Linked DNA regions of Homo sapiens. The protein of the gene in region 1 purifies or fractionates together with the protein of each later gene. This does not show direct contact. Each region holds a gene or a part of one and is shown in the gene's direction. Other genes may lie near its edges.

Region 1 (7,620 bases):
CCTTCCATCTTCAAAGCTGGCCAAAAAAAAAAAAAAATTGCTTCCATTCTGACTTCTCCTTCTGTCACCAGCCAGAGAAAACTGCCTTTAAAGAGTTTATGAGATAAGATGAGGCCAACCATAGTTATCTCCCTTTTAATTAACTCAAAATCAAATGATTAGTAACCACAATTATACCTGCAAAATCTCTTTTGTCACATAACACTACATATTCACAGAGGAAGAAATTATACAAGGGTAAGGGTCATTGGGGTCACTGGGGTCATTCTGAAAATTCTGCCTACCTCAGCCCTCTTTAGTTCTCTTCATTGTCAGAGGTTGAAACCTGACTTTTTTTAGGCTAGTCAATGGGGGAGAAACTAACATTATCTACTTATTCTGGCATCTTAAAGTCCCAGTCACACTCATAGTGGGTTATATATTTATTCATATTACACTTTTATGTGCAAAAAGTTTAAAATATTTTCTCTATAAATGGTCCAGTTGCTTTTGATAGACTTCACTTTCTTTGTTCACAAGAAAAAAACTCAGCAAAATATAATTTAGCCTGACTTAATTACCAAATAGTCTTTTAGATAAATGGTGTTCACTGTCAAAGAAAAACTGCATTGGATGGAGTTAAACAAGCAAGGAAGACTTTATTAAAGTCTACTGCAATATGGGAGTGAGATTAAACATGACTACTGAAACAAAAGGTGGCAGTTTTTATATTTTTTATTATTATTATACTTTACGTTCTGGAGTACATGTGCAGAACGTGTAGTTTTGTTACATAGATTCACACGTGCCATGGTGGTTTCCTGCACCTGGAGGTAAACTAGTGGAAAAGTACTGGAGGACTTTAGGGTGAAGGTTGGCCAATGTGACTAAGCCACCTGTATTTGCTAATTGGCACTTATCTAAATTAGGCTTCTATGCTGCTGCAAAGACTAGGATACGAGAGCACTATTTTTATTGTTGATTCTATTTCAAAGAATGCCTCCCAGGTCCTTGAGAAAGACATGACTAGTTGTCACATCTACAAGAGGCTGCAAGAATATTTACATCTTAAAGGGGTAGAGAAAGAATTTATAATTCCAAGTTTTCCGAAGTAAATACTCTAAGAAAAGGGAGGTCAAGAATCTACAGTCAGGAAAAAATCTGTCTAAAGTTTAGTCAAGCTAAGTGGAATGTTAAGACCATCATAATCACTATTAAGGATAAAATGCCTAGAATTTTAGATTTCCACTCATTCCCTATTTCATCTCAAAAAGATACATGAGTGTATGAGGAAATAAAAGCTCTGTAAACACGTGTCTGATAACAAAAGCTGATGACCTTAAATTTACACAGTGTCCCCTAGACTCTTGCTGGTCACTTCTGCAATATGGGCAGTCTGAATTGTTCCTTGTTAGTGAACAATGAGTTGCGAGTTTTGACTTTTTTTAAGGTGGTTGTGCTGGTGCCTCCCTCTGGAATCCTTAGTTCTATTTGCTTCCAGTCTTGAAGTCAATTAATTCTGTATCTTCTTTGTCAGATACCAGTATTCTGCCTTTCTTTTGTGCCTGATCTCTAGAAATAAACACAAACTCTTGTATCCATTTCATGTTTTTAATCCTTGAGAACCAGATCATTTACCTGTCTTCCACAGGCACCTCTGAATATTGCTTGCCATGTGTTAGACATGGCAAAAAGCTGAAGTTTCCTAGTAGCCTGCAACTCTCTAACACCATTACAGAAGTATGCTATACACACACACCTGCTCCAGGTATTCAGTCATCTTAAACTCATCTCAATGTTTCAATCCATCACTCCATATATTCCGCCCTCAACCCAACTCACACATGCCCATTTGGAGACTGGCAAGCTGACTTCTTCTAGTGACTTCCATCACTCTTCTTCCTACTTCCTAGAGCATTCTTTTCCATATAATTCCAAGGTCTAATACTCTAGGTTCAGTTTTTTCTGTCTTAACGGGAGCCATCATAACTTTTTAATACCTGTCTTTCATGACAATTGTATTGCTAAAGAGGCTAAAAATTAATCCAAGAAACTCAGGTTTATTGATCCATGAAACTCAAGCATCTTTTTTTTTTTTTTTTTTTTTTTGAGACAGGGTCTTACTCTGTCACACAGGCTGGAGTGCAGCAGCACAATCTCTGCTCACTGCAACCTCCACCTCTCAGGCTCAAGTGATCCTCACACCTCAGCCTCCCAAGTAGCTGGGACTACAGCCACGCATCACTACGCCCAGCTAATTTTTGTATTTTTTGTAGAGACAGGGTTTTGCCATGTGGCCCAGACTGGTCTCAAACTCCTGAGCTCAAGCAATTCCCCCAGCCTTGACCTCCCAAAATGCTGGGATTACAGGCATGAGCCACCGCACCCAGCCCACAGCTTTGTTTTTTGCAGTAATCACCTCCCTCTCACATGGGGAAATATGCCACAAAATATACCTGAAGGAGGATATTTAATTCTCCAATTTAATATTTTCAAAATATTACCCCTATCACACACTCTTAAGAGATGAAGCAAACATATGGGATAGTCACCTGACTATAAAAATGTTTTTAAAGTCATAACTGACAGATATCAAAACAAATATCTTACAAATAGAATGAAGTTCTGTCTAGCAATCTGTGCTTTCACTTTTTAACTTCTATGAAAGCATAAACACCATTATTTTTACCATCCCCCAAAATGGAATTTATGAACCTATATTCCATTGATATAATGACTATTGTGTCTTAAACATGCGACCCTTTGAAAATGTTTATCACTTATACATGGAGCAAGTAAACAAGTATCACTAGCTATAACTAAAACACAACAGCTTTAACAATTTTTGCTGTTTGCTTTTAAAAATTTTATAACTTTATTTTATATGTACACACATGTATATAAAGAGAGAGAGAAAAAAAATTGATGGTTGAATAAAATGTCCTCACTCTGAAGCCCAACTCATCATATTATATAGCAAATATGGAGTCATTAATTTATTGAGTTTTTAAAATTATACATATCAATATGTAAAATAATTTAATCCAATTTATAATTTCTTTTGCTCTTGATATGTGAGTTTTTTTCTAATGTTATAATGTATTTCTTTAACATCTAGTACCATTAAATTGATTCTAAAGTTGGGAGTATGGTAGTATGAATGTGAGTTGTTATTAGTCAGAATAGGAGAATAAAAATAAAATTTAGTAAATTAAAACCTTAGACCTTAGACCTAAGACTTTAAGGGTTGGATGATGTTTATCCAGGTGTCTCACCTGTGAAAGCTGCCATTACCATCATCTTCTTTCATCTTTTGCCCTTGCCATTTTCTGAGAACTCTCCTGCTGTTGACATAATCTAGTTATGATTTCTGCCCATGATAAAATAGGACAAATATGCTCTATCTTTGGCCACCAAGGCAAAGGTTACTGGACCTCCAAGTAGTGCTATCTCCTGCTTTTAATTTCCTATAGAGATTCTAGTAATGTGGCTTCTTTTTTCAGTAATTATGACTCAAAATGTTGACCCATACTTTATTACAGTTTTCCCCCTAAAATGTGGTAAACAAACCTCAGAGACAATTTAAATTATTGGAGGTACAAACATTGCATACCTTGAAACTCTTATTCCTTAGTATACAGATTTGTAAGTTTCATGTACCCATAGTCAATGGATTCTGTGCCACCATTCAGGACGTACCACCATCCACCATTCTGGCTGTACCATCCCCAACACCCACCCCTACCCAAACATGCAATTAAAAAATGTTCCCTCACTTGGAAGACCATTTCCCCTCCAACACACACACACACACACACACACACAGAGAGAGAGAGAGAGAGAGAGAGAGAGAGAGAGAGAGGCAGAGAGAAATGACTTAAGGATCTGGTTTCCTCCCAAGTAGCTGGGACTACAGCCGGCGCCACTACCGGTGATGCACTTCCTAGGGTTTAGAACTCCTGTCTTCTACATCTTTCCCCCAGAGACTCAGTCAATCTATGCATATAGTGAGCAATCAGAAAATGTTCGTGGAATATTGTGGAACGTCAAAAATCACTCTGGGCTCTGTAACCTCGGCTTTCTGTTAAAGATGATGAATCATCACAGGATAATTTCAGCATCCAGAGCCCAGACTGCAATCGGGTTTGCAACTGTCCTAACAAGTAGATTTCACCATCTCTGCCCCGAGGAAGCAGAAGGAACGCAAGAAAATTGACAGCTATGCCTTCGGCCTCCAGCTTCCAAGTCGGCCAGATGATTATTAAAAACACTCCTCAGTCAAGGGCGTCGCTTCGAAACGCAGTGGAGGCTGGGGAGAGTTGCAGAATCCATGCCATCCCGCACCTTTGTCGCCCGCTCTTCTTCGGCGCAGGGCACACCGGGACACCCCGAGCCCAACCACCGTCACCAAGGCAACCAGCCTGCACGCCGTCGTCTTGGAGACCGGCTGGCGCCTCAGTGAGCCGAGCAGAGGGGCCGCCTCCGCCCGCACCCAGCATGCTTCGCCGAGGCTATAAGGCCTCTGAAAGGCGAAGACACTTGAGCGAGAGGCTCAGCTGGCACCAAGACCAGGCGCTGAGTAGCAGCATCTACCTCCTACGAGAGATGGGCCCCACTGGCTTCCTGCTGAGGGAGGAGGAGCCGGAATACATGGATTTCCGAGTAACTACCGCCCCTACCGCCCCCAGTTGGCCATCATCCCCGCCCACCAGGTTCCCCCACTGGCATACCCAATGTGCGTAGCCACCATCACAATCTCTGCGGATACTTGCTGCCTCACCCCCGAAAGCGCCTTCCCACGAGTGTTCCAGACTCTAAAATACGTGAAATTACAGAAGGAAATAGTATTTATTAGAAGTTTCTTTTTTGGAGGTTAAGACCAAACTGCAACTCTTGTAAAAGATGATGGCTCTTGATCTTTAGGCTTGAAAATGTCAGAGGCGTATGAATACCTGGTTGGCATTACATGTGTTCTTGGATCTGTTGTTAGTGGTCCTTAGTCCTGTAAATCAAACGAAATGAAAATTCTACAATCTGCTAGCATACTGTAAATATTTTCTAAATAAATAAATAGGTTTCCCTTTACTCTTTGCTCACTCTGAAACTGTATGAAGGCCCTATTAAAGGATGGTTTAAATGGCAATACCTTGGAAAGATATTAATGAATAAAAATTCAAGTTTACTGAAAGACCACAGATATTTCATAATTGCATATCCCATCCTTAACCACTCAAAAATTAGCCACTGCACTACCTCCTAGGAGTTGACTTACAAAATTTTACGTTAGTGCCGTGAAGTTTAAGAATTGAATGCAATTTACTAGTCTGTGCTTATTTAAAGCATCTTTTTTTACTTTGTTGCTTCAATACTTACTGTATTTAATAGTTTTAGCCAAACTAGTCTTGGTGAATAAATTTTGTCCTCTTGAATAAAATTAAATAAATTCACCGACTCAAATGCACCAAACAAAAATCCAAAATGAGCTACCTTACAAAAGGTGCTTAGCTCCACCCCAAAGTAGAATTTCCTTACTGTGAGGAATTTATGGGTTGATATTTGCTTTTTTTCTTCTCTGACTTTGGGAATTAGATTTATTTTCACCTGCCTAAGGGCAGGTCACTTTAAAACCATCCTAATTTGTTAATTTGCTAACAAAGATAAATAATGAAGCCTAGAGACTAGTATCAAGAATTAAGATTCTCCAGTAGAATCTATTCAACCTTTTTGAATCACCTAAACTAAATTACCTCTTCAAATCTCTTTTATTAACTCAGTTTTGCTCTAACTCTCAAATTTTACTGGTCTTTTTAAGTATGCATTTTTCCTTTAAAGGTTTTTCTAGGAAATCCTCACGTTTGTAACTGTTCCACATTTCCGAAAGGAGGGGAACTTTGTAAGCATATCTGCTGGTAAGTGACTTTTCAAATGAAGATCTTCCATGAAGGAACATCTTGGTGTGTTAAATATTTTGCCTTTGTCATGGTTTCAATAACAACAAAATTAAAGAAATTTGGTGTTTGGGGAATATAAAGTTAAAATGGTCATAGCTTACCAATAAATTTTTCAGTATTTCATTTTATTCTGAAAATTGAATAACATTTAAATTGAGAACCATTTTATAATGTTAATGCTTTTAAATAGAAAAAATCAATTTTAGATTCTCATGTACAAATGTGAAATCTAACTATAAAACGGGGGAAAAATCCTGATCCCATCACTGCTGATAATTATATGGTTCATTTGAGATATTGCTGTGCTTCCACAAATTGTGTTTCCAAAATCACGTTTTCTTGAATATCAAATGTTCCATTTTCTACATGTATACATAGGTTGAAAGTGTTCACCTTTTCCGTATTGGCCTATGGCAGTCAAGTTTCAAAATATTTTCCTTTTCAGTTAACATTTGACTATGAATCACTTTAAATTTTCATGTATTTTTATAAATAGTTCAGGTTATTTATTTTTTATAAAAAGTTCAGGTTTCTTACATGCATATATTGCATAGTGGTGAAGTCTGGACTTATAGTGTACTAATCACCCCAATAGTGAACATTGTACCCAATAAGTGATTTTTCAGCCTTACTCCCTTCCCACCCTCCCAGTTTTTGTAGTCTCTGATGTCTTATTTCACTCTATATGTCCATGTGACCCATTGTTTAGCTTTCACTTACAACTGAGAACATGCAGTATTTGACTTTCTATTTCCGAATTATTTAACTTAGGATATTGGCCTCCAGTTCCATCCATGCTGCTACAAAAGACATGAGTTCATTAATTTTTATGGCTGAGTTCTATTACATTATATATATATATATATGTGTGTGTGTGTGTATATATATATGTTTATACACACATTTTATTAATGTGGTATATTTTTATGCCCACCATTATGGATACTTAGGTTGATTCCGTATCTTTGCTGTTGTGAATAGTGCTGTGATAAACATATGAGTTCAGCTATCTTTTGATATAATGATTTCTTGCCCAGTAGCCATATACCCAGGAATAGGATTGCTGGGTCATGGTAGTTCTATTTTTAGTTTTTTGAGAAATCGCCGTACTGTTTTTCATAAAGGTTGAACTAATTTACATTCCTAGCAATAGTATATAAGCATTCCCCTTTCTCCAGGTCCTTATCGACATTTGTTGTTTTTTGACCTTTTAATAATAGTCATTATGACATGTATAAGATGATATCTCATTGTGGTTATAATTTCCACTTCTCTGATGATTAGTGATGTTGAGCATTTTATTATGTTTGTTGGCCACTTGTATATCTTATTTTGAAAAATGTCTGTTCATGTCCTTTGCCCACTTTTTAATGAGGTTATTAGGTTTTTTCCTGTTGAGTTGTTTCAGTTCCTTATAGATTCAGGATGTTAGCTCTTTGTCAAATACGTAGTTTGCAAATATTTCTTAACATTCTTTAGGTTGTCTGTTCACTCTGTTGATTGTTTCATTTGCTGTGCAGAAGCTTTATAGTTTAATTAAGTCTATTAAACTATTTTTCTTTTTGTTGCATTTTCTTATGAAGACTTGATCATAAATTCTTTGCCCAGGCCAATGTCCAGAAGAGTTTCCTAGTTTTTCTTCAAGAGTTTTTGTAGTTTAAGGTCTCACATTTAGGTCTTTAATCCATCT
Region 2 (7,664 bases), on another chromosome or scaffold:
ACAATCGGGAGAGGGAGAGACCAAGAGGAGAAGGGATGGGACCGGAATGAGATGGAGAAAAGGAGACAGGAAAAATCAAGAACTGATAGGGAATGGGGGCAGGAGAAGGTGGGGAGGGACAGAGGGACCAGGGAGACCCATAACAAGAGGAAAAGAGGCAGAGCCAGGAGCTGCAGAGAGAAAGGACCCAGAGAGAGAGAGACTGAGGAGCGCTGGGACACCCGGAGCTGAGAGCCTGCCCCGCGCCCACAGACCGACCGCTCGGGAGCTCGCCCCCGCCTAGCCTCGGCTGAGATGCAGGGCTCTGAGCTCCAGGTCACAATGCACGACACCCGGGGCCGCAGTCCCCCATACCAGCTGGACTCCCAGGGGCGCCTGGTGCTGGCTGAGGCCCAGGTGGGCGACGAGCGAGACTACGTGTGCGTGGTGAGGGCAGGGGCGGCAGGCACTGCTGAGGCCACTGCGCGGCTCAACGTGTTTGGTAAGTGTCCTCGGGCATCCCCCGAAGGGAGGCAGGCAGGGAGGGGCGCAGGGCAGGGGCTCCTGACGTGAACGTCTTTTTCACAGCAAAGCCAGAGGCCACTGAGGTCTCCCCCAACAAAGGGACACTGTCTGTGATGGAGGACTCTGCCCAGGAGGTACCTCTCGGGTGGACCTTGGCCCCAGGGTCCTGGAGGAGGAGGGGACAGGGCCCTGGACTCCTGGGTCTGAGGGAGGAGGGGCTGGGGACCCCTGGGTAATAAAGGAGGAGGGGTAAGGCCAGGCGAGGTGGCTCATGCCTGTAATCCCAGCATTTTGGGAGGCAGAGGCAGGCGGATCACCTGAGGTCAGGAGTTCCAGACCAGCCTGGCCAACATAATGAAACCCCGTCTCTACTAAAGATACAAAAATTAGCTGGGTGTGTTGGTGTGCAACTGTAATCCCAGCTGCTCGGGAGGCTGAGACAGGAGAATCACTCGAACCCAGAAGGCAGAGGCTACAGTGAGCTAAGATCACACCACTGCACTCCAGCCTGGGCCACAGAGCAATACTCCGTCTCAAAAAAAAAAAAAAAAAGAAGAAGAAAAGAAAAAAGAAAGGAAGGGCAGAGGGGGAAGACTCCTGTGTCCTAGGAAGGAGAGAGCTGGGGGACCCAGAATCCTTGGTCCCTGGAGGATGGTGCTGGAGGCCTGGACTCTTTAGTCTGAGTCGGGGACTAGGAATTTGGACTCCTGGGTCCTGGGAGAGTCGGGAGTTAGGAGCCCGGCTCATGAGTCTGAGTGGGGAGAACTCCTGAGAGAGGAGCCCCGACTTCAGAGTCCCAGCTCCAAGCCCAGGGCCATGCCCGTGTCTGCCTCAGATCGCCACCTGCAACAGCCGGAACGGGAACCCGGCCCCCAAGATCACGTGGTATCGCAACGGGCAGCGCCTGGAGGTGCCCGTAGAGATGAACCCAGGTGAGCAGCGCAGGAGCGCGGCGGGACGTGGGCTGGGGTGGGTGGCGGGGCTATGGCCTGGCTGACTGCCACCTCCCCCGATCTCTCCCAGAGGGCTACATGACCAGCCGCACGGTCCGGGAGGCCTCGGGCCTGCTCTCCCTCACCAGCACCCTCTACCTGCGGCTCCGCAAGGATGACCGAGACGCCAGCTTCCACTGCGCCGCCCACTACAGCCTGCCCGAGGGCCGCCACGGCCGCCTGGACAGCCCCACCTTCCACCTCACCCTGCACTGTGAGTCTGTGCTGGCCTTTGACCTCTGACCTCAGGCTCCACACCTCATGAGGCCTGACCCTCCACCCGGGGGCTTCACACTCCCCTCTGACCCTCTGCCTCCCTACTTCATGCTAAAAAAAAATGTGCTAGTGCTGGCCACTGACCTCTGACCTCAATTGGTCGCACAAGCCCCATCCTGACCTCTGACCTCCGACCTCCACTTAGCACCCTGGACCCCATGAAGTTTATGACTAAATGGTGCTTTCCACCTTCTCACACTGAATTGGGTCCCCCCATGACATCTGGCTCCAAGTCTCACACTGACCCATCGCCCATACGGACCTCTGACTCTTGACCTATACTCTTAGTTTATTTCAACCTCTGAACTCTGGCACTCAGAATAATTGTGAACCTGAGGCTTGAAACCTATGACCCGTAACCTTTGACCCGCCATAGCCCTCACCTGGGATGCAGGGCTGACCTCTCGCCTGTCCTCTAGCCTTGACCCTTCCCCTGATCACAATTCCCATCTCCCTGCCCTTCCCTTAGATCCCACGGAGCACGTGCAGTTCTGGGTGGGCAGCCCGTCCACCCCAGCAGGCTGGGTACGCGAGGGTGACACTGTCCAGCTGCTCTGCCGGGGGGACGGCAGCCCCAGCCCGGAGTATACGCTTTTCCGCCTTCAGGTGACCCACCCAAGGGTCCCTCTGGGATCCACCCCCCAGCCCCTGACCTCTGTGACCTGCTAACCTGCATAACTTCTAATGTGGGACCTGGGAGTCCCCATGGCTTAGGCAGCCACCTGATCTGGTGGCCCACGAACTAAAAGGACCTCTGACCCCTGATTTGAGAGAGTCAGGACTTAGCATGCCACCTGACTTGATGGCCCCTGACCCCTGATTCTGGCTTAGCATGACACTAACCTGGTGGCTTCTGACCTAGCATGAGCCCGCTGAACCGGGGTGGCTTCTGAGCCTGGTTCCTCGTCCCCCGTCTCCCAGGATGAGCAGGAGGAAGTGCTGAATGTGAATCTCGAGGGGAACTTGACCCTGGAGGGAGTGACCCGGGGCCAGAGCGGGACCTATGGCTGCAGAGTGGAGGATTACGACGCGGCAGATGACGTGCAGCTCTCCAAGACGCTGGAGCTGCGCGTGGCCTGTGAGAGCCCTGGGTGAACGGGCGGGCAGGAGGGGCCCTGGCATCAGTGCCTCTGCGCCCTCCTCCCTACAGCCCTGAAGTTGCTCTGTCATCCCAAACACTCTGCCTTCAACCCTTTCTCTGCATTTCTTGGGGGTTTTTTTGGTTGTTTTTTTTTTTTTTTTTTTCCCAGAGACAGGACCTGGCTACGTTGCCCAGGCTGGTCTCGAACTCCTCATGCGATCCTCCTGCCTTGCTCTCCCAAAGTGCTGGGATTACAGGAGTGAGCCACCGCATCTTGTCGAGAGCTCTTTCCATAGCACAGACCTGACCCTCCTCTGCTCAGAATCTGCCATGGCTCCCCAGTACCCTTGGGAGAAGCCCAGGTGTCTCACCATGGCCTTCAAGGTCCACCTGGCCAGTTCCACCATTAGCTAGCTGATCCTTCTCCCCAGTCAAGGCTATCTCCTCATCACCCCCCAGGCTCCTCTGGTTCCTACCTTCACTGCCCATCCTTCCTACCGTCTATTTCTCACCAATCCCTTGAATCCCAGGCTTCTAAGAATGATTTTCAGTTCATTCGCATCCAGGCCCTGGGGAAAGGCTGTATTCTCCCTTGGCACTTCTTACATATCCCTTCCTGGGGTAGACCCTGCGCCAGATGCTGGGGACACATCTGTGAACAAGACAGACCACCCCTGTTATTTCAGTAGGGGAGACAGATGGTAAATGCTAACTAAGCCCTTTCGTAACAGTAGTGTATCTACAGGTGATATCACCAGTGAGAGAGAGCAGGAGAGGGGATTATTTTAGGTGGCAGGTGTTGCAGTCTGCTTTCCTGAGAAGCAGATTCTGACTTGGATGTTTTCAGGCAAGAAGTTTATGGGAAGTACCCTGGGTTCCGCACCTCTTGGGTCTAGGGAGGTAAAGGAAGCAAGATTTGGCAAGGTGAGAAGTTGGACTGAAGTCTAAGGAAGGTCTCAGGCTGGGTGCAGTGGTTCATGCCTATAATCCCAGCACTTTGAGAGGCTGAGGCAGGAGGATTGTATGAGCCTAGGAGTTTGAGGCCAGCCTGGGCAACAGAGGGAGACCCCATTTGCACACACACACACACAAATTAAAAATTAGCCAGGCATAGTGGCACACACCTGTAGTCCCAGCTACTCGGAGGCCCAGGTGGGAGGATCCCTTGAGTCTGGAAGGTTGAAACTGCAGTGAGCCAAGATTGTGCCACTGCACTCCAGCCTGAGCGACAGAGAAAGACCCCGTCTCAGGAAAAATAAAAATAAAAAAGTAGGCCGGGCCCCGTGGCTCATGCCTGTAATCCCAACACTTTGGGAGGCCGAGGTGGGTGGATCACCTGAGGTCAGGAGTTAGAGACCAGCCTGGCCAACATAGTGAAACCCCCTCTGTACTAAAAGTTAGCCGGGTGTGGTGGCATGCACCTGTAATCCCAGCCACTCAGGAGCCTGAGGCAGGAGAATCGCTTGAACCCAGGAAGCGGAGATTGCAGTGAACTGAGATCGTGCCATTGCACTCCAGCCTGGGCAACAGAGTGAGACTCCATCTCAGAAACAAATAAAAGAAAGAAAGAGGGCCTCAGTCAGCCCCACGGGGTACTTGGAATCCAGGATGGCCCTTCACAGTTGTCCCCAGTTGGGGTGAGGGGGCTGGGCCTTAATAACCTCTACATCAACCAGTCCTCAGAGGTGTGCTGGCCTTAGGCAAGGGGCTCTCAGCAGCTGAGGCAGCTCCCAGAGAGGGGTGACAGCTGCAGGCTGACAGCTGTCATCCTTCTTAGCAGCTGGTGGAATAAGTCCTTCCGTGCTGTAGGAAAGATCTGGGTGTCCACAATAGGGGAGGTCAGGGAAGCCTCTGAGAAGAGACATTTAAGTGAGACTCAGAAAAGCAGACAGCAGCCAGGCACAGTGGCTCACACCTGTAATCCCAGCACTTTGGGAGGCCGAGGCAGGTGGATCACCTGAGGTCAGGAGTTCGAGACCAGCCTGGCCAACATGGTGAAACCCCATCTCTACTAAAAATATAAAAATTAGCCAGGCATGATGGCTGGTGCCTGTAATCCCAGCTACCCAGGAGACTGAGGCAGGAGAATCGCTTGATCCTGGGAGGCGGAGGTTGCAGTGAGCTGAGATCGTGCCACTGAACTCCAGCCTGGGTGACAGAGCAAGAGTCTGTCTCAAAGAAAAAAGAAATTGGCCGGGCACGGTGGCTCACACCTGTAATCCCAGCACTTTTGGGAGGCAGAGGCGGGCAGATCATGAGGTCAGGAGTTTGAGACCATCCTGGCTAACACGGTGAAATCCCGTCTCTACTAAAAATACAAAAAATTAGCTGGGCGTGGTGGCAGGTGCCTGTAGTCCCAGGTACTCGGGAGGCTGAGGCAGGAGAATGGCATGAACCCAGGAGGCAGAGCTTGCAGTGAGCTGAGATCCCGCCACTGCACTCTAGCCTGGGCGACAGAGCCAAACTCTCTCAAAAAAAAATAATAAGAAGAAGAAATGCAGAGAGCTACAAAAAGAGCACTGCAAGTAGAGTGAGCAAGTGCAAAGGCCCTGAGGCAGGCCCCAACTTGGTCTACTCAAGAAAAACAGCAAGAGAACGGGGTAGCTGGGAGCACAGGAGGAATGGGGAAGAGTGGGAGATGGTTCAAGAGGTGGGTGAGGGCCAGACCAGGCAGCATCTTTTAGGCACCCTCAAGAAGTTTGGCCTCGATGCCAAGGGTACTGGGGAGCCACTGCAGGGTTTTATGCAGAGGGGAGGGATGACCAGTGGGTGGTTGGTTTTTTTTGTTTTTTTTTTTTTGAGTCAGAGTCTCACTCTGTCACCCAGGCTGGAGCGCAGTGGCACAATCTCGGCTCACTGCAACCTCCACCTCCCAGGTTCAAGCGATTCTCCTGCCTCAGCCTCCCAAGTAGCTGGGACTATAGGCATGCACCACTATGCCCAGCTAGCTTTTGGATTTTTAGTAGAGATGGGGTTTCACCATGTGACCAGGGTGGTCTCGAACTCCTGACATCAGGTGATGCACCCGCCTCGGCCTCCCAAAGTGCTGGGGTTATAGGCATGAGCCACCGTGCCCGGCCTGACCAGTGGATGTTTTAAAGAGGTCCCTCTAGCTGCTCAGTGGAGGATGGACAAGAGGGAGGAGCAGGCTAGTGAAGAGGTGGTTGGGACAGTCAAACCTGGGGCCAGAGGTGGCAGGAAGCCAGAGGATTTGTCCTGGGAGCAGACCAGATAAAGACTTGCTGAGGCCAGGAGCAGGGGCTCACGCCTGTGATCCTAGCACTTTTGGGAGGTCAAGACAGGAGGATCACTTGAGGCCAGGAGTTTGAGACCCAGCCTGGCCAACATAGCAACACCTTGTCTCTATTCAAAAACAAAACTTTGCAGAAAAGATGTTTGGGGGTAACAGGGAGGTTACCCCACAGGTTGGGGTTTGAGCAAAAGGTTTGTGTGCTAAAGTCACAGAAGGGACACCTTCCACACCTAAGGTTATTCATTAACCTTGGGCTCAGATGTCAGCTCTGAAGAAAAGTAATTGACTTGGGCATGTCAATGTTGGGGTTAGACTGCTAGATTTTTGGTTGGAGAGCCTGGATGGGAGAATGGAGATTTCATGGAGATGGGGTAAACCAGGAGGATTACTTGCTGTTCTCTGCTTCCAACTGTCCATTCATGTTTGCACCCCCGACCGCCCCTGGAGAGCCCCTAATTGAGTGGGTGGCGGTCTGGGACGAGTGACAGACTGTCCCCCACTGCAGATCTGGACCCCCTGGAGCTCAGCGAGGGGAAGGTGCTTTCCTTACCTCTAAACAGCAGTGCAGTCGTGAACTGCTCCGTGCACGGCCTGCCCACCCCTGCCCTACGCTGGACCAAGGTGAGAGGGAGAGGAGCCCCCTCGGGCCCTGCACTCGCACCCTCCTCTCTCCCCTCACTCCTCGCCCTCTCACAGCGTCCTCCTCCTCCTCTGCCCTTCCCAGGACTCCACTCCCCTGGGCGATGGCCCCATGCTGTCGCTCAGTTCTATCACCTTCGATTCCAATGGCACCTACGTATGTGAGGCCTCCCTGCCCACAGTCCCGGTCCTCAGCCGCACCCAGAACTTCACGCTGCTGGTCCAAGGTTCAGGGGGCAGGGAGGGGGTGGGCTTGGATGGGGACAGTGTGGGGTGTGGGACCTGGACAAACAGGACGAGTTCCTGAGTCCCTGGCTGGGGACTCCATCTTCTGCTCGATGCCTCTCTTCTCTCTCTCTCTCCTCTCCCTTCACTTTCTTCCCATCCCCACCACCCACAGGCTCGCCAGAGCTAAAGACAGCGGAAATAGAGCCCAAGGCAGATGGCAGCTGGAGGGAAGGAGACGAAGTCACACTCATCTGCTCTGCCCGCGGCCATCCAGACCCCAAACTCAGCTGGAGCCAATTGGGGGGCAGCGTAAGGGACCTTCCTCTCCACCCTGAGCCCCCTCTCACTCATCCAAGTATCACACCCTCCTTTCCACTTCCTGGGAGACTGGACGTCGTTCACCTCTGCCCTTGACCCCACCCCTTGACCCCACCAGCCGGGGCCTGATCGGAGCCTCCATAGCCCGCAGAGCCAATCCCCGGACGGCAGGGTTGGGTGAGCAGCTCTCTGACCCTGAAAGTGACCAGCGCCCTGAGCCGCGATGGCATCTCCTGTGAAGCCTCCAACCCCCACGGGAACAAGCGCCATGTCTTCCACTTCGGCACCGGTGAGTGACTGAGGTGGTGGCAGAGGAGCCGGGTGTGGGGCAGACAGAGCCCACTGCCTGACCCACGCCTCTCTCCATCCTGTC
Region 3 (7,997 bases), on another chromosome or scaffold:
CACTTGAGGCCAGGAGTTCAAAACCAGCCTGAGAAACATAGCAATACCCCATCTCTAAAAGAAAGAAACGATGAGAATTATTACACCCAAAGCAGACTTTTACTTACATCTTATTGACCAGAACTGGGTCAATAAGTGCTGACTGCCATTACTAGCCAAAGGGAATGGCATTGTGATGCTGGTCCTACATTAATTATGATTTTCTCCTGGGACTAGGAGCTGGGCCAAGTTTCTTAAATTTGTTGCCACCTCTCTCTTCTGCCCCTTCTCTCTCCACCGCAAAATAAGGACTTGTAACTGTGGAAAAAGTGGGATAGCATCCTACAGATGCATCATAATAGCATCTGTTAAAATTTTCAAAGCAATAATCCAGGAAGATAAAGTACATTTTTCTTTCCAGGAGACTTATTGCCTTACACAAGAATCTTATTCTCATTTGCTCCATACTTTAGCTTCCAAAGCCAACCAAATTTAAACAGTGGAAGCAAAAGATGAATTCAGCATTTATGTATTTTATATAATTCCATTTTAACAAAACTTAACAGTTTAAATAAGATTTAAGTAAAATTTCAGCGTTCCCAACTCCTAAATATCACTCACCCTCACATGGCAAAATATCTATTTTCACAAATCAGTGTAGACCTACTCAGTAATCGGTAATTGTGTGTTCTGTTTTCTCTGCTGCAGCTCAGTAGAAATTACACTTATCAATTGCTACTATTTAAGTTTTTCCCTCATAGCTACTTGTATTGGTAATCCTGTTAGATTTTGTTTTCATGTGAAGTACACGCTATAATGAATACTTTTAGATACTATGAGAAAAAATTAAGTGAAAAATTTAAGCAAAGTTAAAACAAAAATTATTGCTGCTTTTAAATAGACTTTAAATTGGGGTCAAAAGTGGCAGCCTGAAGGTATATTTTATTTTTCCAACAAAATGTTTATAAGTTTTTCAATTTTGAATGCCTTTAAGTGGTCTTGTATTCTCCAGTTTAACACAGGCCCCTCTAACCCTCTTATAGCTGACATCCAAGCACTCGTGGTAACTCCTTATCCCAGTAGGCACTTGAATTTGCCAATCTCTGCTTTGTCTGGATAAACCAAGATTAATAATAAATGAATAATGTTTTCCTATTTGCAGAACATTTTTGACTGGCTTCCAAAATGATCTCTAAAATGAATAATGAACTTTTCTCCAAGACAACTACATTTTTGGCGTGCTGGTTTAAAAGTTTTTGGCTGACATTTTGTCAGCCAAATAGGGTTTGGCTCCCCTATTTTGTCTTCTAAATAGGGGAGAAGGTGGTATCACGTCTTTGTTTGATTTATTTGACGAAGTTGTGTTCCCAGCCATATTGGGTAATTTTGCATTATGAAATTGTGCATACTTTAAACAAGTTGAGTATTCTTTAGTTGAAATTATTTGCTTGAGACCAGAAGTGTTTTGGATTTCAATTAAAAAAAAATTTGGAATATCTGCATTATACTTAACAACGGAACATTCCAAATCAGAAAAATCCCAAATCCAAAATGTCCTTTGAGCAGTTCCCCTGAGTAACATGTCAGTGCTCAAAATGTTTCAGATTTTGGAGCATTGGAAACATCAGATTTTCAAATTTGGGATGCTCTACCTGTATTTATATATTTTCAATTGTATATTTTAAAATATATTTCAAATTTAAAAGACTAAAATGCTTAAAGAAAATAATTAACAGCTTATATATGTTATTTATATAACATATTAATATAAAATTAATTTTATATAAACTTAATATATATTACATATATTGATATGAGTTTTTATATATAATATATATACTTTTATATATAGTATATCTTTCCAGATATTTTACTATATATATACTTTTATATATTTATATATATATATATATATATATCTTTCCAGAGTTCCTTTTACAAAATCTCAGAATGGTTTATAAGTATTTTACACATAATTTATAAAATATTATTTTCTATATAGTATAAAAAATTCACACGGTCTCACAGAATGATAGAGGGAAATTCACACTCACTATCTAGGGTATTAAATCTCCAAGACTACATTCTTCTCTTAATAAAATTGACCTTTGCTAATGTTAAAATTTTTTTATTTAATACTTTAGGAAATAGCTGTGCAATGTTTTAAATGAGTGAAAGAATGTGGGAACTTGGAAAGAAATGTTAAGAAGTCCCATGTTTTTATTCATGGGAACATTGCCTCATAAATCATTTTTGTACTATCATGTTTACTAATTGTGTGGATTTATTAGAGTTCTTTTTGGCCAAAATAATGGTGAGCTACCTGTGTTTATATTAACTACTTTCCTGTCAGCCTGTAGTAGTTTGCTATTATTTTACTGTGATTATTATTTTTTCTCTAATTCCCATCTTCTGTACTACCAGTTCTAGCCTAGTCTGCTTGTATTTCCTCCTCCTTTATTTGTCTAAAAAGATAAACAAGCTTTAATTTGCAAAGGACATGGAGAGTTATGGATACATGATGACCTCTTAAGAACTTCTCCAATGCCAACATTCCTGCAACAAGTCTTAAAATCAGTAGTGTCATATTATTACTATTTATTCTAATATGTGTCCTTAAAAGTTAAAATGATAGAACTAGTTGAAATAGCAAATAACATTTGAAATATTTTTCTGAGATATAATGCAAGAGATAATAAGTATAAAGAGTAACAACACCCCCTGAGTTAGTTGTTTACAACCCTGACTGAACATTGAAATTGCCTGGGGAAGATTTTAAAATTACTGACGCCTAGATCTATTGCCTAGAAATTCTGATATAATTGGTCTGGAGTGCAGCATGGACATGAGATGTTTTTAAAACTTCCCAGATAATTCTAAACTACAACTAATGTTGAGAACCACTGGTCTCAGACTATCTCCAGATTATGTTATTAACCTTGACTACCCATTATAATCAATGGATGTATTTTAGAAACATAGCTTCCCAGACTCCAGGTCCAGAAATTCAAATTCTATTTTTCTGGGATGGAACCAGGCATTGTGTTTCTTATGTGCCCTAATTTTAACGTGAAGTTAAGGTAAGAATTATTGCTCAAGAAACCAAGAGGTTTAACATCGCAATATGGGAAGGTATGATATATTATCATTGTGTTTTTTTTAATTGTTGTTTTATTGATGACAAACCATAACCTTGGCCTGCTAGAAGAGTTCAATGGCACAAATTTAGTTTTTTTTGTTTTAGACGGAGTCTCGCTCTGTCTCCCAGGCTGGAGTGCAGTGGCACAATCTGGGCTCACTGCAAGCTCCACCTCCCAGGTTCACGCCATTCTCCTGCCTCAGCCTCCCGAGTAGCTGGGACTACAGGTGCCCATCACCACGCCCAGCTAATTTTTTTGTATTTTTAGTAGACACGGGGTTTCACCGTGTTAGCCAGGATGGTCTCGAACTCCTGACCTTGTGATCCGCCTGCCTCGGCCTCCCAAAGTGCTGGGATTACAGGTGTGAGCCACAGCACCCGGCCCACAAATTTAGTTTTTTAAAGTAAGTAACTTTGTCTTAAAAATGATTTGTAGTAATAGTCATTAAAAGATAAACTGAGGCACATTAAAATATTAAAGCATTTATTTGACCATTCAGTGATTCATGAATCTGGTAGCTCCTGATAAAGGAGCCAAGGAGAAGGCTTTTATAGGGTGAATTTGGAAGCAAAGGAAAGATATTTGATTGGTTAAAGTGGAGTACTAGACTTATTTGGGTCATCCCAGTGGAAAGTCCCCAGTTAGAAGTTAGCTGGCAGTTTCTGATTGATTAAGCTTAAATTTCCTTTTTATCATTTACACTGATTTGGGTTTCCTTTCCTTAGGTAGGAACTCATGGAGCTGAAGCTACCTCAGCCTACTGGCCTTCTAATTATTTCAACACAGAAATAGTACTTTACGGCACACTGGAGTTGCAATTCTATTCTGCAATTGGGTGGTTTCAGATTTGTTCTTCCTATAAATTTTGGTCAAATTAGTCATTGCATTTCTTTCTATAAGTCTGAGATTCAGATATTTGGTTGCTCTGAGAAAGTCTCTGTTGAGATAGCATTGCCATACTGGTCAGATTGAAAGTGACTTTGTATCCTTTCTATTAATGTTCTGATATGAAAGAGTGATGACTCGGATATAGTGTTAATGCATTAAAAAAGCACAGCCTGACAAATCGCTTCCTATAATACACAGAAAAATGTCTAGTCTTGAATTTATAACACAGGGAAAGGTAAAAAATTTAATTATGCTTCCTAATGTTGAACATGCACGTGACAAAGTAAATACTAAAAATCCATTCAGCTGGGCGTGGACAGGGAGAGGGAACGGTGCACATCAGAGGGTGCAGGCTACTCCAACGTTTCCGTTTCCTCAGTCTCGCGGGAAGCTCCGTTGTGGGCGCCCCGGCTGGTGGCTGAGCTCAGGCCTTCAGGCAGAGGGGAGGCGAGGGCGGGGCGGTCACGTGAGAGCACTGCCGCGGTGGGTTGTGGGGGTGCTGCGGCGCCGTTTGCTTTGCCAAACCGACAAAAGAGAGATGATGGCCAACGACGCCAAGCCCGACGTGAAGACCGTGCAGGTGCTGCGGGACACAGCCAACCGCCTGCGGATCCATTCCATCAGGGCCACGTGTGCCTCTGGTTCTGGCCAGCTCACGTCGTGCTGCAGTGCAGCGGAGGTCGTGTCTGTCCTCTTCTTCCACACGATGAAGTATAAACAGACAGACCCAGAACACCCGGACAACGACCGGTTCATCCTCTCCAGGGGACATGCTGCTCCTATCCTCTATGCTGCTTGGGTGGAGGTGGGTGACATCAGTGAATCTGACTTGCTGAACCTGAGGAAACTTCACAGCGACTTGGAGAGACACCCTACCCCCCGATTGCCGTTTGTTGACGTGGCAACAGGGTCCCTAGGTCAGGGATTAGGTACTGCATGTGGAATGGCTTATACTGGCAAGTACCTTGACAAGGCCAGCTACCGGGTGTTCTGCCTTATGGGAGATGGCGAATCCTCAGAAGGCTCTGTGTGGGAGGCTTTTGCTTTTGCCTCCCACTACAACTTGGACAATCTCGTGGCGGTCTTCGACGTGAACCGCTTGGGACAAAGTGGCCCTGCACCCCTTGAGCATGGCGCAGACATCTACCAGAATTGCTGTGAAGCCTTTGGATGGAATACTTACTTAGTGGATGGCCATGATGTGGAGGCCTTGTGCCAAGCATTTTGGCAAGCAAGTCAAGTGAAGAACAAGCCTACTGCTATAGTTGCCAAGACCTTCAAAGGTCGGGGTATTCCAAATATTGAGGATGCAGAAAATTGGCATGGAAAGCCAGTGCCAAAAGAAAGAGCAGATGCAATTGTCAAATTAATTGAGAGTCAGATACAGACCAATGAGAATCTCATACCAAAATCGCCTGTGGAAGACTCACCTCAAATAAGCATCACAGATATAAAAATGACCTCCCCACCTGCTTACAAAGTTGGTGACAAGATAGCTACTCAGAAAACATATGGTTTGGCTCTGGCTAAACTGGGCCGTGCAAATGAAAGAGTTATTGTTCTGAGTGGTGACACGATGAACTCCACCTTTTCTGAGATATTCAGGAAAGAACACCCTGAGCGTTTCATAGAGTGTATTATTGCTGAACAAAACATGGTAAGTGTGGCACTAGGCTGTGCTACACGTGGTCGAACCATTGCTTTTGCTGGTGCTTTTGCTGCCTTTTTTACTAGAGCATTCGATCAGCTCCGAATGGGAGCCATTTCTCAAGCCAATATCAACCTTATTGGTTCCCACTGTGGGGTATCCACTGGAGAAGATGGAGTCTCCCAGATGGCCCTGGAGGATCTAGCCATGTTCCGAAGCATTCCCAATTGTACTGTTTTCTATCCAAGTGATGCCATCTCGACAGAGCATGCTATTTATCTAGCCGCCAATACCAAGGGAATGTGCTTCATTCGAACCAGCCAACCAGAAACTGCAGTTATTTATACCCCACAAGAAAATTTTGAGATTGGCCAGGCCAAGGTGGTCCGCCACGGTGTCAATGATAAAGTCACAGTAATTGGAGCTGGAGTTACTCTCCATGAAGCCTTAGAAGCTGCTGACCATCTTTCTCAACAAGGTATTTCTGTCCGTGTCATCGACCCATTTACCATTAAACCCCTGGATGCCGCCACCATCATCTCCAGTGCAAAAGCCACAGGCGGCCGAGTTATCACAGTGGAGGATCACTACAGGGAAGGTGGCATTGGAGAAGCTGTTTGTGCAGCTGTCTCCAGGGAGCCTGATATCCTTGTTCATCAACTGGCAGTGTCAGGAGTGCCTCAACGTGGGAAAACTAGTGAATTGCTGGATATGTTTGGAATCAGTACCAGACACATTATAGCAGCCGTAACACTTACTTTAATGAAGTAAACTAGGCTTATTTCTAAAAAGTCAAGTCTATTGGCTTTGGCCCAAAAGCACTGGTATCTTTGTATTAAATTCATGTTTATTGTCACAAAACCATTATTTATACCTATACAGTTGTACTGTTTCTTTTAAAGCAAAGCCATTTAACATCTTTCTTCATTCCTAATTTGGAAATTAAAGTTTACCTTTCTGTTAATCTATGTATAAATGTTACTCTGAGTTATTAATGTGGATTTTAAAATTGTAAGCAATAGAATAGGAAATAAAACAACTACCTAATACAAATATTTCTGATAAGACTACAAATATCTGACTGAGCTGGGGATTAAAGTAGAGGTAACTGTATCTTAAATGAGTATGATTTCCTTGTAAGTTAAAAAAATTGAAATTTAATTGTAGACTTCAATAGTCCAAGTTTTGAAGGATGTTTGAGCTTTTGTATAATGCCATTTATACCTGCAGTTTTACAGATAATGTTTGACTGCAGTTGCCTTGGAAATTCCTCCAAAGTTTGCCTTCATCTCTCCTCTACAGTTTGGAGGTGATGGTGCAGCAGTGGAACATCTCTTGATGCACCACACTACTTGTGTTCTGTGAAGTGATGAAAGTATAACTGGTTCTAGTTTGCACACTACACACATAGTTTTGTGAAGCTTCAGAAATGTTTTTTCTTTTCCTTGTGGCCAAACCAGTTTGTTAATCTGATTATATTCATCTGCTAATGATACTAAAGTTAATGTAATAAAGCATTTAAAAATCAGATACTTCAGTCTGTGCTGTGTATGTGGGATTTGATTTCTTCCTGATGAAATCCTAAATAAGGAGAACTTGTGTCTAAATAAGAAACAGAGAGAGTCATGACCCCCAGAAGCAAACCTGGAAAAAGGTTGAAGCTGGAGATAAGTTACTAGAGAAGATTGTATGGACTAAAAAGCCATCCCTTAAGCAGACTCCTGACTTTTGGCTGTCAGTGTGTAAATATATGCTTGGAGTACAAGAAAGTACCAGTCAGGCAAATCATAGATGGACCCAAGGTTCCAAACTAAATTAAATTACTCTGTGTCTATGTCAGGTAATTATTTCCTTACTTTTATTACCCTCATTAAGTTCTTTGGAGGCATAACCAATTTGTCTCAGCAATCATTGTCTTAGGAGGTATAATAGAGCCAAAAAATATTAATACTAACCTGGGAATTAGAGAAACCAGGCTCTCCTCATCTGCTACTACCCGTTTTCTCTAAGCTAATTTCCTCTTTTGTAAAATGATTACGAAAATTGCTCTGTTTTTTCATAAGATTTAAAAATTACTTTGTAGAAATAAAAAGTTGACATAAAATCATTGCAGAAGTTTAGAAAATGCAAATAAGTAAAATATGTTTACCCCCCGTTTCACACACACAAAAATCATTTAATTGTATTCACAGCATGTTTTCTGTACATGCTGTGAAAGTGGGCATGTAAAATGGTCTGTTTCCAACCAAACATGCATAAGCACACCTTTAATAATGACAGTAGATCAGATTCTTTATGTCTAATGGAATCTCAGACACCACCAGAAATTATATTTTTTGTAG

The links. The genes of interacting proteins can lie anywhere in the genome.
Region 2: the proteins of ZSWIM2 (region 1) and BCAM purify together in Homo sapiens (affinity purification with mass spectrometry; 2 studies listed by BioGRID and IntAct, with this or other methods). This does not show direct contact.
Region 3: the proteins of ZSWIM2 (region 1) and TKTL2 purify together in Homo sapiens (affinity purification with mass spectrometry; 2 studies listed by BioGRID and IntAct, with this or other methods). This does not show direct contact.

The regions. Positions count from the first base shown.
Region 1 is NC_000002.12:186,845,987-186,853,606, reverse strand, and holds the start of ZSWIM2 (E3 ubiquitin-protein ligase ZSWIM2), read left to right. Parts: upstream 1-4,436; 5' UTR 4,437-4,476; coding exon 4,477-4,641; intron 4,642-5,811; coding exon 5,812-5,888; intron 5,889-7,620. UniProt on the Homo sapiens protein: E3 ubiquitin-protein ligase involved in the regulation of Fas-, DR3- and DR4-mediated apoptosis. Functions in conjunction with the UBE2D1, UBE2D3 and UBE2E1 E2 ubiquitin-conjugating enzymes.
Region 2 is NC_000019.10:44,811,911-44,819,574, forward strand, and holds part of BCAM (basal cell adhesion molecule isoform 1 precursor), read left to right. Parts: intron 1-252; coding exon 253-481; intron 482-567; coding exon 568-638; intron 639-1,339; coding exon 1,340-1,436; intron 1,437-1,527; coding exon 1,528-1,710; intron 1,711-2,241; coding exon 2,242-2,378; intron 2,379-2,693; coding exon 2,694-2,850; intron 2,851-6,611; coding exon 6,612-6,727; intron 6,728-6,830; coding exon 6,831-6,972; intron 6,973-7,145; coding exon 7,146-7,282; intron 7,283-7,435; coding exon 7,436-7,580; intron 7,581-7,664. UniProt on the Homo sapiens protein: Transmembrane glycoprotein that functions as both a receptor and an adhesion molecule playing a crucial role in cell adhesion, motility, migration and invasion.
Region 3 is NC_000004.12:163,470,283-163,478,279, reverse strand, and holds TKTL2 (transketolase-like protein 2), read left to right. Parts: upstream 1-4,525; 5' UTR 4,526-4,545; coding exon 4,546-6,426; 3' UTR 6,427-7,185; downstream 7,186-7,997. UniProt on the Homo sapiens protein: Plays an essential role in total transketolase activity and cell proliferation in cancer cells; after transfection with anti-TKTL1 siRNA, total transketolase activity dramatically decreases and proliferation was significantly inhibited in cancer cells.